Regions from separate parts of the Homo sapiens genome. Here region 2 is linked to region 1. Evidence: fine-mapped expression QTL. A gene starts in region 1. The other region holds a variant in brackets. All regions are shown on one strand. Distances are from middle to middle.

Region 1 (8,317 bases):
AATCCCAGCTACTCAGGAAGCTGAGGCGGAAGGATCACCTGAGCCTGGGAGCTCAAGGCTGTAGTGAGATGGAATCACGCCACTGCACTCCAGCCAGGGCAACATAGTGAGACCCTGCCTCAAAAAAAAAAAAAAAAAAAAAGGAAAAGTTCACTATAAGCTAAACCTTGAGCCTAGAGCACGTGCAGAACCCTGGAGAAGTTCCTACCCCCAAGGCAGGAGTTCGTAGCTAATAGCTTCTTGGGCTTTTGGTGCAGACTGGCTGGAGATTGGAGAAGCTACATCATGAGAAAGGGGCTTTTGTTCTCTTTTCTGGGCCGAATCAGGCAGCAGCAACTTGTAACCATCTGGCCATCTGCTGGTATCTTGTAGGGCAGCTTATCTTGCAAAAGCACTAGGTGCTGACGCAGGAGAGTTGCAAGCAAAAGAAGACTCTGCAAAAGGGTCCTTCAGGGCTTCGCACAAGGGGACAAGTTGGTACAGGGTCCTCATCTTGCTTACCCTGCCTCGAACACCCACCGTTCTAGTCCTTCAATGAGCCCATCGCATGCTTTCATCATGGCGCCTGCAGGTGCGTGTTCTGCTGTGATAACAGCATTATGTTCGTCATCACTGTTAGCACAAGCACCTTGGTTCAGAACCGTTTTGCCATTGTTCATCATCGGTCAATGAACGAACAACTGGAGCCACAGTATAGATGTTAAAAACCTGTATATCCACTTCGTCCAGCATGCTGACACACTCTGAAGGTATATTTTTTGCCTGCATAGGGAGGTCAGACATCATTTTTTTCCCACTTCACATATGGAATACTTCCATGTCATCACCTTGTTCATCATCATCACTGAACATAGTCGCAGACCAGAGGTTGTGCCATGCACGCATGGCTGTGTCGTTAGTCACTGAGTTCCAAGCATTGGAAACAGCATTGGCATCCTTCATGCTAAACACCTTTTGAAAACTTCCACACCCACCCCTCTGTTCACTGCTGCTAGCGTGCAATGTTTCCATATTTACTCTCCATTGATCTCCATTGATCTAAGGATACCCTGGTCACATGGCTGAAGTAATGAAGTCACATTTGGAAGAAAGCCCATGGCATAAACATTATTTTTAATGAGAGTTTCAGCTGGAGGATGAGCAGAATGGTTGTCAAAGAAAAACAAAATCTTGCAGTCATCATCCAGTCCACCCTCCCTACAGTGACACAAGCCACTGGTCCAAAATGTTTGTGAGACTAATCAGAAAAGATGTCCCTGATTATACATGTAATCTCAGCTACTCAGGAAGCTGAGGTGGGAGGATGGCTTGAGGCCAGGAGTGTGAGACCAGCCTTGGCAACATAGTGAGACCTCATCTCTAGAAATAAATAAATATCAGCCAGGTGTGGTGGTGCACACCTATAGGTGTGCTGTGTTGCCCAGGCTGGTCTCGAACTCCTGAGCTCAAGTGATCCACCCACCTTGGCCTCCCAAAGTGCTGGGATTACAGACGTGAGCCACTGCACCCGGCCAACATTTTCAACATCATTAGACCAGAGAGCAGAGAATAAGCAAAAATAGCACAGTGAGAAGTGCACAGAGGCGGGGCTTGGCTCCATATGGGGAATTGTCGGGACCTACCATGGGTGTGTTCGACCTGCACACAGGCCATTTTACCACCTTTTGTGTGCGTGCTTGCATGGGGGAATCTGGGCATGCACAGAAAAGATATCTCTCAGCTGAAGGCGGCTGGGAGAGTCTTTTTTCCCCTTGGGGATGCTGAATAAACAGTGTGTTATGTGCCTGTGTTTTGATTGCCACCCACCCCACGAGATCAGGTGTGGAATTTTCCACTTGTGGCGTAATGTCAGAGCTCAAAAAGTTTTGGATTTTGGACCATTTTGGATTTGGGATTTGGAGATCAGGGGTGCTCAATCTGTATGGTACTGTTCATATGAATTTTTTTTTTTTTTTTTTGAGACCGAGTCTCTTTCTGTCGCCCAGGCTAGAGTGCAGTGGTGTGATCTCAGCTCACTGCATCCTCCACCTCCCAGGTTCAAGCGATTCTCATGCCTCAGCCTCCCAAGTAGATGAGATTACAGGTGCGTGCCACCACACCCTGCTAATTTTTGTATTTTTAGTAGAGATGGGGTTTCACCATGTAGGCCAGGCTGGTCTCGAACTCCTGACCTCAAGTGATCTGCCCACCTCAGCCTCCCAAAGTGCTGGGATTACAGTCATGAGCCACCACACCCAGCCTTAATCACATGAATTTTTAAAAATGTAAGCCATCCTGTCCGTTGCACATGGACATACACATGGAAAAGGGGCCTAAGAATGCCTGGGAATGATGAGTACCAGTTTCAAGAAACATTTACCTGCGAGAAAGTGGAAGACGGAGGAAGAGAAAGATGCAAGAATACAAAGGGGCTTCAACTTTATCTGTAATTTTTTTATTCCAAAAAATATCTGAAGCAAACATTGAGCAGACATATTAAGTTTTGACAGGATGAGGCAGTAGGCTCATGGATATCCACTATATTTATTGATTGCTATAGTTCGAAGTATATTTGAAATTTACATTATTTAACAACGTATATATATGTAATGAAATAGAGTTCTTTAAGCATACCAAATTTACAATTTTATTTTCAAATTTTAAAATTTACTTTTGGTCAGAATGCAGTAAAATGGGTACTTTAACACAATCAATGCTAGTTAGAAGGTATATTGATACAAGACTTTTGGAAAGCAAGATAGAAATATTTGTTTAAAAGAGAAAAAGCCTTTAAAAATATTCCCTACCAGTTGACTCAATAGTTCCACTGTAGGAAATCTATTCTAAGCGATCTTAAATTCACAAGATTTTGTAGAAAGACATTTATGACAATGTTATCTTTAATATTAAAATAATAGAGGGGATGTTAAACTATGATAATTTGCAGCCATTAAAAACTTTTACAAAGAGTCTGTAATAATGGAGAAATCTCTACTTCATAAATGTCCATAGAATAAAAAATGCTCTATTGTATACATGCTATGCTTAGCCTGCATTCAATAAACCCTCAATATATTTGAGAATATTAAGGAATATTGTTAATTTTTAAATTTGATCTTATCATCTTGAGATTTATTATTAAGTATTGAGAGAAATTGAATAATGTGGGATTTCCCCAGTTGGAGTAAGGGTGGCTATTCCTGCTTAGAAAAAAAGAATGGACCTTGTGTGGTCACTGCCGGATGGTAGGTTCATTATTCTTTCTACTTTTTTTTTTTAAATTTAAGAGACAGGAACTGGCTGTGTTGCCCAGGCTGGAGTGCAGTGGTGCGATCTCAGCTCACTGCAACCTCAGCCTCCTGGGTTCAAGTGATTCTCCTGCCTCAGCCTCCTGAATAGCTGGGATTACAGGCGCCCGCCACCATGCCCAGCTAATTTTGGTATTTTTAGTAGAGATGGGGTTTCACCATGTTGGCCAGGCTAGTCTCGAATTCCTGACTTCAGGCGATCCACCTGCCTTGGCCTCCGAAAGTGCTTGGATTTCAGGAGTGGCCACCGCGCTCGGCCCTAAATTCTTTTATTTAACTTTTAAGTTCAGGGTTATAAGTGCAGGTTTGTTATAAAGGTAAACCTGTGTCTTGGGGGATTATTGTACAGATTATTTCGTTTTCAAAGAGAATTTGCAAGTATGTCACAAAAGCCTCATAAACACGTTGTGAGATTTTAAGAGGCAATGACCGAGGCTTGGAGATGTCTCGTCCTGTCCAATGTCACCGCTAGACCTGAGAATCTGCACTTGGGAGCTTACAGACCCGGTTCTCAGGCTTCACTTGAGACCCCAAGAAAGAAAAAAACCCACCAGCCAAAGAGGAGGATGGCAGCCTGGAAGAACCTAAGGAAGCGAGGCTCAGAGGTGAAGCACTGTGGCTCCTCTCCCCCTTCTCCCCCCTCCGCCCCCTCTCCTTCTAAGATGAGGCATTTTCTAGGGGAGCAAAGCTGCAGCAGGAATTCGGCGAAGTGGCGGAGCTGGGGCCCCAGCGGGCGCCGGGGGCCGCGGGAGCCAGCAGGTGGCGGGGGCTGCGCTCCGCCCGGGCCAGAGCGCACCAGGCAGGTGCCCGCGCCTCCGCACCGCGGCGACACCTCCGCGGGCACTCACCCAGGCCGGCCGCTCACAACCGAGCGCAGGGCCGCGGAGGGAGACCAGGAAAGCCGAAGGCGGAGCAGCTGGAGGCGACCAGCGCCGGGCGAGGTCAAGTGGATCCGAGCCGCAGAGAGGGCTGGAGAGAGTCTGCTCTCCGATGACTTTGCCCACTCTCTTCGCAGTGGGGACACCGGACCGAGTGCACACTGGAGGTCCCAGAGCACGACGAGCGCGGAGGACCGGGAGGCTCCCGGGCTTGCGTGGGTAAGGTCCTGGGTCCCCACCGGGCACGGCCCATGCGTCCCGGGGACAGGGGTGGCTGTGCGGTGCCGCGGCGGCCGGCGGGGCTCCTTCCCCAGCAGGGGTGGGGACGCTGAGTCACGGATCTGTCACCGCTTTGCACCTCTCCGAGCCCTCGGGGGCCAAAGCAAAAGCGAAAGCGAATGCGACTGGCGGGGCGGCAGGTCCCAGAGCAGCGCTCGCCACCTCCCCCCGGCCTGGGCAGCGCTCGCCCGGGGAGTCCAGCGGTGTCCTGTGGAGCTGCCGCCATGGCCCCGCGGCGGGCGCGCGGCTGCCGGACCCTCGGTCTCCCGGCGCTGCTACTGCTGCTGCTGCTCCGGCCGCCGGCGACGCGGGGTAGGGAGCTGGGAGCAGGGGCGCCCGGGCGGGACTTGGAAGGGGGCCGGGACGTGGAGCTGGAGGGAACCGGGCGCCCCATCTCCCCGGGCCGTGCGGGGGCGTCGGTGCCCTCGGGAGCGCGGTGCGCGCAGGCCCAGGCCGGGGAGGGGACGCGGCGCCGGGCAGGAGGGACACGTGCCGGGAGCCGGGGTCGCAGGGAGAGCGCCGCCGCTGCGCCCGGGTCACCCACGTAAGGGAGCGGGCGGCCTGGCTGGGGTCTCCGAGGCCGAGGTCAGGAGCAGTTCTGAGAAGCCCGTTTTGGCCACGGGAGCGCGGAGCCGGCGGCGTCCAGCAGTTTGGAGACACGGGCGAGTGCGCTTCTCCCAGGCGCCTGGACTGCAGGGCGGGTGTTGCATAGCACGCGGTCCTCGGAGGGGTCCGGGAGAAACTACTCCTCCCGACTCCCAGGCAAAAGTAAATTATGTCAGTGGGAGCTGGGAGGGTGGGGAGGAGCTGTGTCCCAGGGGGAAACGCGTCGGGCAAGTTGCACACCTGGGGACCTGGAAACAACTTCCAATTCTTAAGCGATCAGGAAACCAGCAGAGGCGGTCGGGACCGGATGGGGGTGGGGAGTGGGGGCCAGCCTGGAGTCTACACTCGCAGAAAAAGGGGGAAGAGATCTGTGATCGCTTGGTGTATTCGAGAAGAAAGCGGGTCGCGGAGCTCTGATCTCGGCAGGGAGGACGGAATGAGCGATTCCTAGGGGTTTTGTCCCGGCAGCCAGAGGAAGGAGGAAAACAGTAGCAGGGTCTAGCTCTATCCTTGTCAGCGCTTCTTTATCTTTTTATAGTCAGGGAGCTCTTGGAGGGTCTGATGAAAGCTATGAACCCCCGGCCCCCAGAAAAATGCATGAATGAACATAGTTACAAAATGTGCATATGATTTTGGGGTCAAAGCCCCACTGAAGGCCATCCATGGACTCTCTATAGGAATTAGTAACGCCATGATCTGTGTGTGTTTTTAAGCGAGACCCTGAATAATTTACATCCAGTCGGGCCAGTCTGCCCAGGCCCTGGCCAAAGCCATTCCACGCACAGTTGCTGCTGCCTGGTGTGGCCTGAACGCCCCCCCACCCTCTGCCACCCCCACCCCAGCTCTGCGAGGCTTCTTGAAGTTTCGTTTTCATGAGACTCTGATGCTTGGATTTCCCCCCACATCTGAGAAGCAGAGTTAGTTGGTGACCGGTTGGTTCCTCCCAGTTGGCTAGCAGTGTCACAGGACCCCATAGCTGGCAACTGGGGCAGCTGGATTACACAATATGAAAGTGAAATGCAGCCTTAGTCAAAGCCCAGCAGAGAGGAGGTGTCTTCCTTGAAGACTGAGTGGATAGGGGAGCACCACTGTGAGATCTCTGATCTCATCAGCTGCACAGCCTTGCCCTTTGACCTTAGAAAGATGTTGCTACCTTCCCTTCCCAAAGCTCTCAATGTTTTTTCTTTTTCTTTTTCTTTCTTTCTTGTTTTCTTTTTTGAGACGGAGTCTCACTCTGTCACCCCGGCTGGGGTGCAGTAGCGCGATCTCAGCTCACTGCAACCTCCGCCTCCTGGGTTCAAGCGATTCTGCTGCCTCAGCCTCCTGAGTAGCTGGGATTACAGGCGATCGCCACCACGCCCAGTAACTTTTGTGTTTTTAATAGAGACGGGGTTTCATCATGTTGGTCAGGCTGATCCAACATGGTGATCACTCCTGACCTTGTGATCTGCCCGCCTCGGCCTTCCAAAGTGCTGGGATTACAGGCGTGAGCCAGCTTGCCCAGCCGTTGTTTTTTTTCCCTTTAACAGCCTTATTGAGGTATAATTGACCGACAATAAACTGCATATATTGAAGTTGCACACTTTGATAAGTTTGGAGGTAAATGCATACATACTCATGAAACCACTGCCACCACCAAGAGTGAACACAACTATCACTCCCAAAGACTTCCTCATGCCCTGCACAGTCCTCATCTCCCACCTCGCCCATCTCCCAGGCAATTTGATGCACTTTCTAAAATTTTTTATAAATAGAATTACACGGTAGGAACTCTTTCTTGTTTGGCTTTTTTCACAGACAGTAATTATCCTGAGAATTTATCCATGTTGTAATTTGTATAAGTAGTTCATTAGTTTCTACCATTGAGTAGTAGTATTCTACCCATGGCTAGCCCATCATTTGTTTAGCCATTCACTTGTTAAGGGACATTTGGGTTGTTTCCAGTTTGGGACTATTACAAAGAAAGCTGCTATGAACACTGACATACAGGTTTCTGTATGGACACATGTTTTCATTTCTCATGGGTAGAGAATGGTTGGGAGTAGAGTGGCTGTGTTATATGGCAGGTGTATGTTTAATTTTTTTTTTTTTGAAACAATGTCACACCATTGTTTCCCAAGCTGGAGTGCAGTAGCATGATTATAGCTCACTGCAGCCTTGACCTCTCAGGTGTTTAATTTTTAATTTTTATTTATTTATTTTTAATTTTTATTTATTTTTAATTTACTTATTTTGAGACAGAATCTCACTCTGTTGCCCAGACTGAAGTGCAGTGGCTCCATCTCTGCTCACTGAAACCTCTGCCTCCTGGGTTCAAGCGATTCTCCTGCCTCAGCCTCCTGAGTAGCTGGGACTACAGGCTTGCACCACTACGCCCGGCTAATTTTTGTATTTTTAGTAGAGATGGGGTTTCACCATGTTGGCCAGGCTGGTCTCGAACTCCTGACCTCAGGGGATCTGCCTGCTTTGGCCTCCCAAAGTGCTGGGATTACAGGTGTGAGCCATTGCACCTGGCCTCAGAAGTTTAATTTTTAAAGAAACTGCTAAACCATTTCCCAAAGTTGTTATACGATTTTACATTCCCACAGCAGTGTAGGGAAGTTCCAGTTCCTTCACACCCTTGTCAGCTCTTGGTATGATGAATCTTTTTAATTTTACCCATTCTACTAGGTATGTAGGGGGTCTCCCCTTGTAGTTTTAATTTGCATTTTTCTACAGCTGGTGATGTTATGTGCTTATTTGCCATGTATATATCTTCTCTGGTAGTATCTGTTTATATTTTTTTTGCTCTCTTAAAAATTGAATTGTATCAGCTGGGTGTGGTGGCTCACACCTGTAATCCCAGCACTTTGGGAGGCCAACGCGGGCAGATCACTTGAGGCCAGGAGTTCGAGACCAGCCAGGTCAACATGGTAAAACCCCTTCTCTACTAAAAATACAAAAATTAGCCAGCTGTGGTAGCCCATGCCTGTAATGTCAGCTACTCAGGAGGCTGAGGCAGGAGAATCGCTTGAACCCTGGAGGCAGAGGTTGCGGTGAGCAGAGATCGCGCCACTGCACTCCAGCCTGGGACACAGAGCGAGACTGTCTTTTTTTTTTTTTCTGACTCTGTCTTATGTATAAAAAATTGAATTGTATCATTACTGAATTTTGAGAGTTCTTTATATATTCTGGATACGAGGCCCTAATCAGGTATATGATTTGCAAATATTTTCTCAGATTCTGTGGCTTATCCTTTCTCTTAGCAGTGTCTTTTGAAAAGCAGAA
Region 2 (8,312 bases), 32 kb after region 1:
GGGATTACAAGCGTACACCACCACACCTGGCTAATTTTTGTATTTTTGGCAGAGACAGTGTTTCACCATGTTGGCCAGGCTGGTCTCGAACTCCTGACCTCAGGTGATCCAACCGCCTCAGCCTCCAAAGTGCTGGGATTACAGGCTTGAGCCACCGTGCCTGGCAAGAAATAAGACTCTTAACTCCCCCCACCACTTTTTTAAAACCACTTACGTTCTTTATTCCCTTGTATAGATGCAGATTTCCATTTTCTTCCTGCCTAACTTTTTAAAATATATCTTGTGGTGTGACTTTCCCCGTTTAAACCCTTCTTCAGACATTAGGAAGTGGGAGAGCAGGGATCAAAAGACACCCTGTTTCTCACTGCTCACCCCCCTGTTCCCCAAGGACTTCTTCCTCTTGGCTGAGGCTGCCACCTCCTGGCTTGGAATTTCACAGCACAGAGCGGACTCCCCGAGTACTGCGGGTTTGTCTCACCCCAGGGCTGTGCTCCTTGCAGGCAGGACCAGCCCGACCCAAATCACAGCCTCCCCCACCTCACACTGCTAGGCACTAATCAGAACTCAATGTGTGCATATTTTAGGTAATATTAGGCACTATATTACCGGGGGATTTAATTGACACTTTACTTCCCTAAGTGACTGTAAATCCACCCATTCTAGTGGTGCTGTTCTTAGCTATTCAGGATGAAACACCTCCTCCTCTCCTGAAACCGTCCGTCCCTCATCCTGACTTGCAGCTCACAGAGAAAAGTGACATACCTGAGGCTCTCTGTCAATTACAAGGCTCCTCCTGGCGTGGGAGATGTCTATAGGGAAGACACCAGCGTTTGGGCTCCTCCCAATGACCCTGTCTCCAGCTGTGCTGCACGCACTGACAGGGAGCCGGAAAAGGTGGAGGAGATGCTAAGCCCAGTGAATCCTCTCCATCGAAGGATTCAGGAAGAAGAAAACTCATCTCAGCGCCATTTTACATATATATGCATTTATACTTCCTTGTCTGTTATATCTACACATTATATATGATTTGTATTTTGACATTGTGCCTTGTATAAACAAAATAAAATATATATTTTCAATATTTTAAAATGCATTAAAAGAATCACCAAGGATGGCCGGGCAGGGTGGCTCATGCCTGTAATCCCAGTACTTTGGGAGGCCGAGGCGGGTGGATCACCTGAGGTCAGGAAATTGAGACCAGCCTGGCCAACATGGTGAAACCCCATCTCTACTAAAAACACAAAAATTAGCCTGGCGTGGTGGTGAGCGTCTGTAATCCCAGCTATTTGGGAGGCTGAGGCAGGAGAATCACTTGAACTCTGGGGGTGGAGGTTGCAGTGAGCCGAGATCATACCCCTGCACTCCAGCCTGAGAGACGCAGCGAGACTCCAATTCAAAAAAAAAAAAAAAATCACCAAGGAGAAATGTTCCACACAAAGGAGGAGAAAGAATGGGAATGCAGAATTCCACTGGGGCTCCTCCATCCTGTTGGGGTGCCTCATCACCCACTGACACAGACGGGCTGACCTCCCCTCTCCCTGCTCTCCCCACGCGTGGGCACCTGGCCTGGGCGTGGCCTCCAGGGCCTCTCAGCTAGACTACAAAGCTGTTGAATACAGAGAATGAAGAGCACAGAACTCACAGGGCAGTGGCCAGCAGTGGCCTCAGAAGCTCTGACTGGCTGCTGGGCCTCCTGTTCTGGGCTCTCCAGGCGTCTTTAGGTCCTAACCATATTCCAAACCTAAGCCTCCCATTTTCCGGGATTCTATGAGCCCCTCGTATCTTTCCAATACATTTTTTTTTCTTTATAACAGATTCTGTTTTCATTACTTGTCACTGAAAAGTTCCTAGCTGATATGAAATTCGGTACCAGGAGTGGGTATTGCAAATTATGGAGAAGAGGGGAGATAAGGAGTGTCTGCGGCTGGTTATCTGCCTTAGGGACGAGAGAAAAGAGTGAATGTTCTGATGATATGCAGAGACAGGAATGGAGCGGCCCAGGGAATTCGGTAATTAGTTCGCCAGGAGGTGCCTGGGATGTCATGCCTGCTGCAAGCCTGGCTCTCAGAGACTATGTTGCGTCCATCCTGAAATCGTATGGATATGAGAAATCTGAGCCCATAGTGGGTAGCTGCTTTTAATGTCACTGAAAAACTTAGAGAATAAGAAGTTCAAATCTCTAAAGTCTGAATTCAAGCCACAGGCTGAAACCTAAAGACTGCCTAGAACAACGCGGAATTTCATTCCTTACAGATGCGAGGCCAGGATATCTGAAAACCCATCTTAAGAGTCTGAGCCTTTGGCTGGGCGCCGTGGCTCATGCCTGTAATCCAAACACTTTGGGAGGCCGAGGCAGGTGGATCGCTTGAGTCCAGGAGTTCAAGACCAGCCCAAACAACATGGCGAAACCCCTGTCTCTACAAAAAATACAAAAATTAGCCAGTTGTGGTGGCATGTGCCTGTAGTCCCAGCTACTCAAGAGGCTGAGGTGGGAGAACTGCTTGAGCCCAGGAGGTAGCAGTGAGCCGAGATCATGCCACAGCACTCCAGCCTGGATGACAGAGGAGACACAGTCTCCAAAAAAAAACAACAGTCTAAGCCGTCAAGTTGTTGGAAGAACATTAGCTGAATCCATGGCCCCAGCAGGTTTCCCAGCTGAAGGGAGAGCACTGATTGGAGAAGGGCGAGGTTCCTGTACTGGATTAAAAATGTAGGGGGACATTTGGAGGACTCACAGGATCCCCCACCCTCCCTTGTCCTCAGAAGCAGCCCTCTGTTCTGCCTGACAATGCTGCAACATTGCCTCCTGCTCGAGGGGGGCATCTTGCAAAAGGAAGTCTGTTCTGCTGACAATTTCCTCCCCCTGTCCCATTCTGCATGGGGAGAAAACTTTGCTGAGAATCCCAATCAGACCCTCAGGATCCCAGGAATCAGCCTGTTCCGTGGAAACAAGAGCTCCCCAAGGCTGGGCCGGGCCCTGCTGCAAGCACCTCCACCCCCACGTCCCACCTGCGGCCTCCTCACAGGCCAAGCCCGTAGCCAATGCCCAATGCCCCTGTCCTTCCTTCACAGTCTCCTACATCCAACTCACCTTCCAGAACCAGATCAAGTTTACCTTCTCCAGGAGCCTCTGTTGTTTCAGTTTTGGAGGGTTTTTTTTTTTGAGACAGAGTCTCGCTCTGTCGCTCAGGCTGGAGTGCAGTGGCACGATCTCCACTCACTGCAACCTCCGCCTCCCGAGTTCAAGCGATTCTCCTGCCTCAGCTTCCTGAGTAGCTGGGACTACAGGTGCGTGCCACCATGCCCAGCTAATTTTTATATTTTTGATAGAGACAGGGTTTCGCCATGTTGTCCAGGCTGATCTGGAACTCCTGATCTCAAGTGATCCACCCGCCTTGGCCTCCCATAGTGCTGGGACTACAGGCGTGAGCCACCATGCCCAGCCCCGGAGCCTTGGCTAATGACTCAGTTGTACAAAATCATTTGCCTCTGAGCCTTCATAACACTTATTATCGGTGCTATTCATGTGGCATCTGCAAAATACTATCTTTGTGCAGTGGAAAGAAGATAGAACTTAAAAGCCTGAGTGTCGAGCATCCATTCTACCCTTTGCTGAGCATCCATTCTACCCTTTGCTGGCCCTGTCACTTGGAGACACTACACACACGGACATTGCCTCATCTTTGTAGTGGGGATGACGGCACATGCACTCCCTTCCCAGAGG[C/T]GTGAGGGTCACAGGAGACCCTGGCGTCTGTCTCTCCCCTCGCTAGCCACTAGAGATCCTGACAGTTAAGCCTGGTACTAATCCTCAAGAAGTTTACAGCCTGGTCAAAAAGAGAAGCATACCGGAACAAATATGAAACAAAACCTTACACCACAAGCACACACACTAATGGGACACGAGCCCAGTAAAGGCAGAAATGGCTCCAAGGCCTGGAAGCTTGAGGAATGCAGGATGTGAGTTGGAAGGATGGGTGGAATTTAAATAAACGGGCAGGGAGCATTCTAAATGGTGGGGGGGGGCGGTGGAGGCAAAAACCCAAACAGGAAATTGAGCAACACGTTCAGGAAAGACAGAGCATGGCTGCTGGGCAGCCAGGTCAACCGGACGGCAAGGCAGGGGTTGGCCGGGGAAGCACTGCGCCGCCCCTGCATGCCCTGCATCCTCGGGTCCTGGGAGGGCTGCTCAGTAACTGGAAGGAAAATGAAACTGAAAAAGAGCAAGGGTCCCGTAGGATTGAACACAGTTGGTGAAACTTGGGCCGTCTGCCTCAAGTCCCCGCTTGGCAAAACCACTCCCTCCTGGTGGACGCCCTCACCATGAAGGTTAGTGCTTCTCTTTCTGAAGCTGTGTCTTCATTCCTCTGGGCAGAGAGCCAACAGTCCTAGTTACAGAAGTGTATAACTGGGTGCCATGGCTCACCTAGGGTCCCAGCTACTCAGGAATCTGAGGTGGGAGGATCGCTTGAGCCCAGGAGCATGAGGCTGCAGTGAGCGGTGATCGCGTCACTGCGCTCCAGCCTGGGCGACAGAGTGGGACTCTTGTCTCCAAAATAATTCAAAAATGGGGTGTAATCTTCAAAATCTCCTTGGAGTTAATGCCACCCAGAGGGTACTCAAATTGCTGTCAGTGTCCCGGGGCTGCAGTGGCTGCAGGTGTTTTCCAAGTGTTCTGGGAAGCCCTGGTGGCTGCAGAGGCACCTGAGGGGCCACCACAGGCGGGAGCGGAGAAGGAACTCTGGGTGCCCATCCCCCTCCTGAGTGACCACAGCGGCTGCATTTGTTAACTGGAAGTAAAATTAAGCCTAAAGAATTCCATGGCTAAGAACATCTGAAAGCCTTCCATGCTATTAAATATTTATTTTATTGTTCATCCTGGACTCCATAGGCAGATGCTTTAAAAAAACAAACAAACTGATCTTTTGGAAGAGTTCTAACTCCAACTCTTCACACAGTGGTAGTGGAAATACTATGGGTTTGGGATTGAACTTGAGTTTTCATCCAAGCTCTGCTCTGTGATACTGAGCACAGTGGGCCCAGCCCCGTGACTCTTTAGAGCCTGTTTCTTCATCTGCAAATGGCGGCTGTCATCTGCCTCCCAGGTTTGCTGTGAGGACTGAAGGAATTCACATACACAAAGGCCTGATAGCGTCTACCTGCAGGAGGCTCCTAATAAACGTTGAGTTCACTTCCTTAATGAGGTATATTTACTTACATGGTAATCAGCACCTGCCCCTTCCTTCGCAAATACATTCCCACTTTTTTAGGATTTATTATTTCACCCAGCCGTGTGCATCATGGAAAGCTGACCTCATCCCAAGCTCCAGGAAATAAAACCCTGATGATTTGAAGCCATTCTTCCTTACTATGATTGGCTTAGGAGTGGGCAGGTAGCCCAGTTCTGACCAACAATATGTGAGTCAGCTGGAGAAGCCTGTGGGAAAGGCTTTCTTGCGCCTCTTCCCAGACAAAACCAGGTCCAGCTGCTTGTTCTCATGGTCCAATAACAAGCTGCAGACAGAGTGGGGAAGAAGGGAGTTTATTTCTGGTTACAGGGAGAAGGTCAGAGTAACTCACCAGACTAATTTAAAATTATAAGTTTTTTTTCAGTGCTTATACACATTTAAACCATATGCCTATGTGCAGGAGTACACCTCCAAGCTGAAGTATATTCCTCTGTTTAATCTTTCACTAGGGTCTGGGGTCTGGAAAATTACTTCAGAGCCTTGAAACAATTACTTCATTTTTTTTCTTTCTTATTTTAGAGGGAGGGTCTCACTATGTTGCCCAGGCTGGTCTTGAACTCCTGGGCTCAAGCGACCCTCCTCCCTCAGCCTCCCAAAGTGCTGGGATTGCGGGCGTGAGCCGCTGCTCCTGGCCCAATTACTTAATTTAAAGTGGATCATGGTACAAGGTCCACAAGAACGCCTCCATTATTTTAATTAAACTCTAAGGTCTGGGAGAAAGCCCAGGTGGGGTCTTAATCGACTTGTTTTTACACTCTAGCCTTTGTATTAAGGCACCAGTTTCTCCAATTTTCCTCGTTTAATTTATATATTCCTCAGAGTTATAGTAAGGTGTTGGTGAGGCTGGCTGCTCTGGTTGCTAAGAGAGACCCGGCCTGCCACACTCCTAAGAGACACAGAAGACCAGCCTACCCTTCCCTTGCCTCCCGTGACACTGCCCTGCAGGTGGCTGGCCAAGAGAAGCCTGCCCGGCGACGCTGAGGCACCGAACATGAGCAGGGGAGGAAGGAATGCCTGGGAGCAGCTGAGCCGAGCCCCTGCCACCAGCCTCCTCCGCACGCCCGTGGAATCAGCACTTTCTGCTTCCCGCCCCTGAGAGCCTTGCTCTGGGGCCACTCACAGCCAATTAAGTGGGGATGTTGTAAGAGACTCTAAAATACGTGGAGCTGGCTGAGGACGCGGGACCGACCCCATTATGTGTGTGTGAGGCTGATTAAAGTGTTACCTGTCACCAGGTGTCGCCAATTCTTGGTGAAGCTCTCTCCATGTGACCTCCATGCTACTTATTTTTTATTTTATTGTTCATCCTGGACTCCAAAGGCTGATGCTATTTTTTTTTTTAATGTGATCTTTTGGAAGAGTTCTAACTGCAACTCTTCACATAGTGGTAGTAGAATATACCATGGGTATTAAAAACTAAAGCATTTCTTAATCTGTGGGGTCCAGATTAGGAAGACATGTATTAGGAAAATGATTACTTTAAAAAAAATAAAAAATTCAGGCCAGGCATAGTGGCTCACGCCTGTAATCCCAGCACTTTGGGAGGCTGAGGCAGGTGGATCACCTGAGGTCAGGAGTTCAAGACCAGCCTGGCCGACATGGTGAAACCCCGTCTCTACCAAAAATACAAAAATTAGCTGGTTGTGGTCACATATGCTTGTAATTCCAGCTACTTGGGAGGCTGAGACAGGAGAATCGCTTGAACCCGGGAGGCAGAGGTTGCAGTGAGCGGAGATCTCACCACTGCACTCCAGGCTGGGTGACAGAGTGAGGCTCTGTCTCAAAAAAAAAAAAAAAAAAGAAAAGAAAAAAAAATCAGAACCACTGAATTGTACATTTAAAAAAGGAAGAAAAGAAAAATCCAGGATGTCAGCACTGTGCTGGCCGCTTCCTGGGGCCCTCAGTGAGTTCCTTTAAAAGACAGGCTTAGGGTGACAGAGGCCAGCCTGGAAATGGACAGGAAACGCCAGCCTTTCCGCTGCGGTCCAACTTGGGCTGACGCCCTCATCGCAACAGGAGAGCCCTGCAGGGTTGAGGCAGGAGGGTGACCGGCGTTAGTCTTCATTGTAAGATTGCAGGTCCCTCTACATGGGAGCGAGTTGGGCCAGGGCAGAGGCACAGAGCAACATAGACTACAACTGGTCCAGGAGGCAGAACGGTGGAGGGTCGCGGGCGGGTGGGTGGTGCACCCTGGAGGCCGCGTGGAGCTTCCCAGTGAACTGGCATGAAGAAAAGTATCACAGCCCGATGGTGGTGCTGTTTCTGGAGGTGGGGAAGGGTGCGTGGAGGAGCCAGCCAGGCTCGGAAGGAAATCAGGGGCTGCATGTGGGACATGGCAGGGCTGAGATGTCACGAAGACAGCAAATGGAGTGATCGACTGGCGACCTTGGCGTTTGAGTGGGAAGCCCCCCTCCCTCCACCTAACCTACCTCTCAGCCCACGCCACTAGGGATAAAACACACACAGGTCCCCAGTGAGGAGGATCGCAGGGGACGGCACCTCCTGGGCCCTCATGGAGAACCTGTCCCTTAAGTAGGCCAGGCAGAGGGAGAGCCCCTGCCGGCTAAGGGAGCCCTGCCCCCCACACCAGCCCAGCTGTGCAGAGGTGCCTTGGCCAGGGGCGTGCGTGTAGCACTGTCTTCATGTCTGGGCAAGGAGCTGGAGGAACCCTGCCTGCCTCGGTTCAGACGTCTCTACCGCACCCACTCACTGCAAATGTAGAGTGATCAGCTTCCAGGCTCTCGGTGTACCCCACATTGCTAAAGCCAGGGGTTCAGGGTGACTAGGAAGGACTGAAGGGCAAGGATCAGACTTGAAAAACATGTTAAATTGCTAATAGTCTGATTCTAGGGGTGTCAAAGTCCCTTTGTGATACAGTGAGTTGCTCCCAGACACAGACCAAATGCCACTACAGGACGGAAGCTGGGCAGGCAGCGTGACAGTGACCAGCTTCCCAGGCAGGAAGGTCCCACGGGGGTGCTGCACTGCCTTAAGTTTATTAAGCTGTGTCTGAGTCCACCATGCGACGTCTCTGCCCTCATGCCTGGGCTGCTAAAGGAAAAATAC

Evidence for each region.
Region 2: its variant is fine-mapped to the expression of IL15RA in whole blood (TOPMed, PIP above 0.99). The same link has a PIP of 0.9 or more in neutrophils.

The regions. Positions count from the first base shown.
Region 1 is chr10:5,973,844-5,982,160 of GRCh38, reverse strand. IL15RA (interleukin 15 receptor subunit alpha) reads left to right here and starts at 4,618. Exons shown (of 7, transcript NM_002189.4): 1 at 4,618-4,756. The coding sequence starts at 4,669. It overlaps LOC107984200 (a long non-coding RNA gene), which reads right to left. Exons shown (of 3, transcript XR_001747348.2): 3 at 8,097-8,317. RefSeq lists silencers at 181-475, 3,855-4,524, 4,615-4,994 and enhancers at 5,885-5,964, 6,095-6,364.
Region 2 is chr10:5,941,669-5,949,980 of GRCh38, reverse strand. It overlaps LOC105376384 (a long non-coding RNA gene), which reads left to right and starts at 4,067. Exons shown (of 2, transcript NR_188180.1): 1 at 4,067-4,326. It also overlaps a transcript of IL15RA not described here. RefSeq lists an enhancer at 4,308-4,866. The variant C/T (reference allele first, on the strand shown) is at 3,725.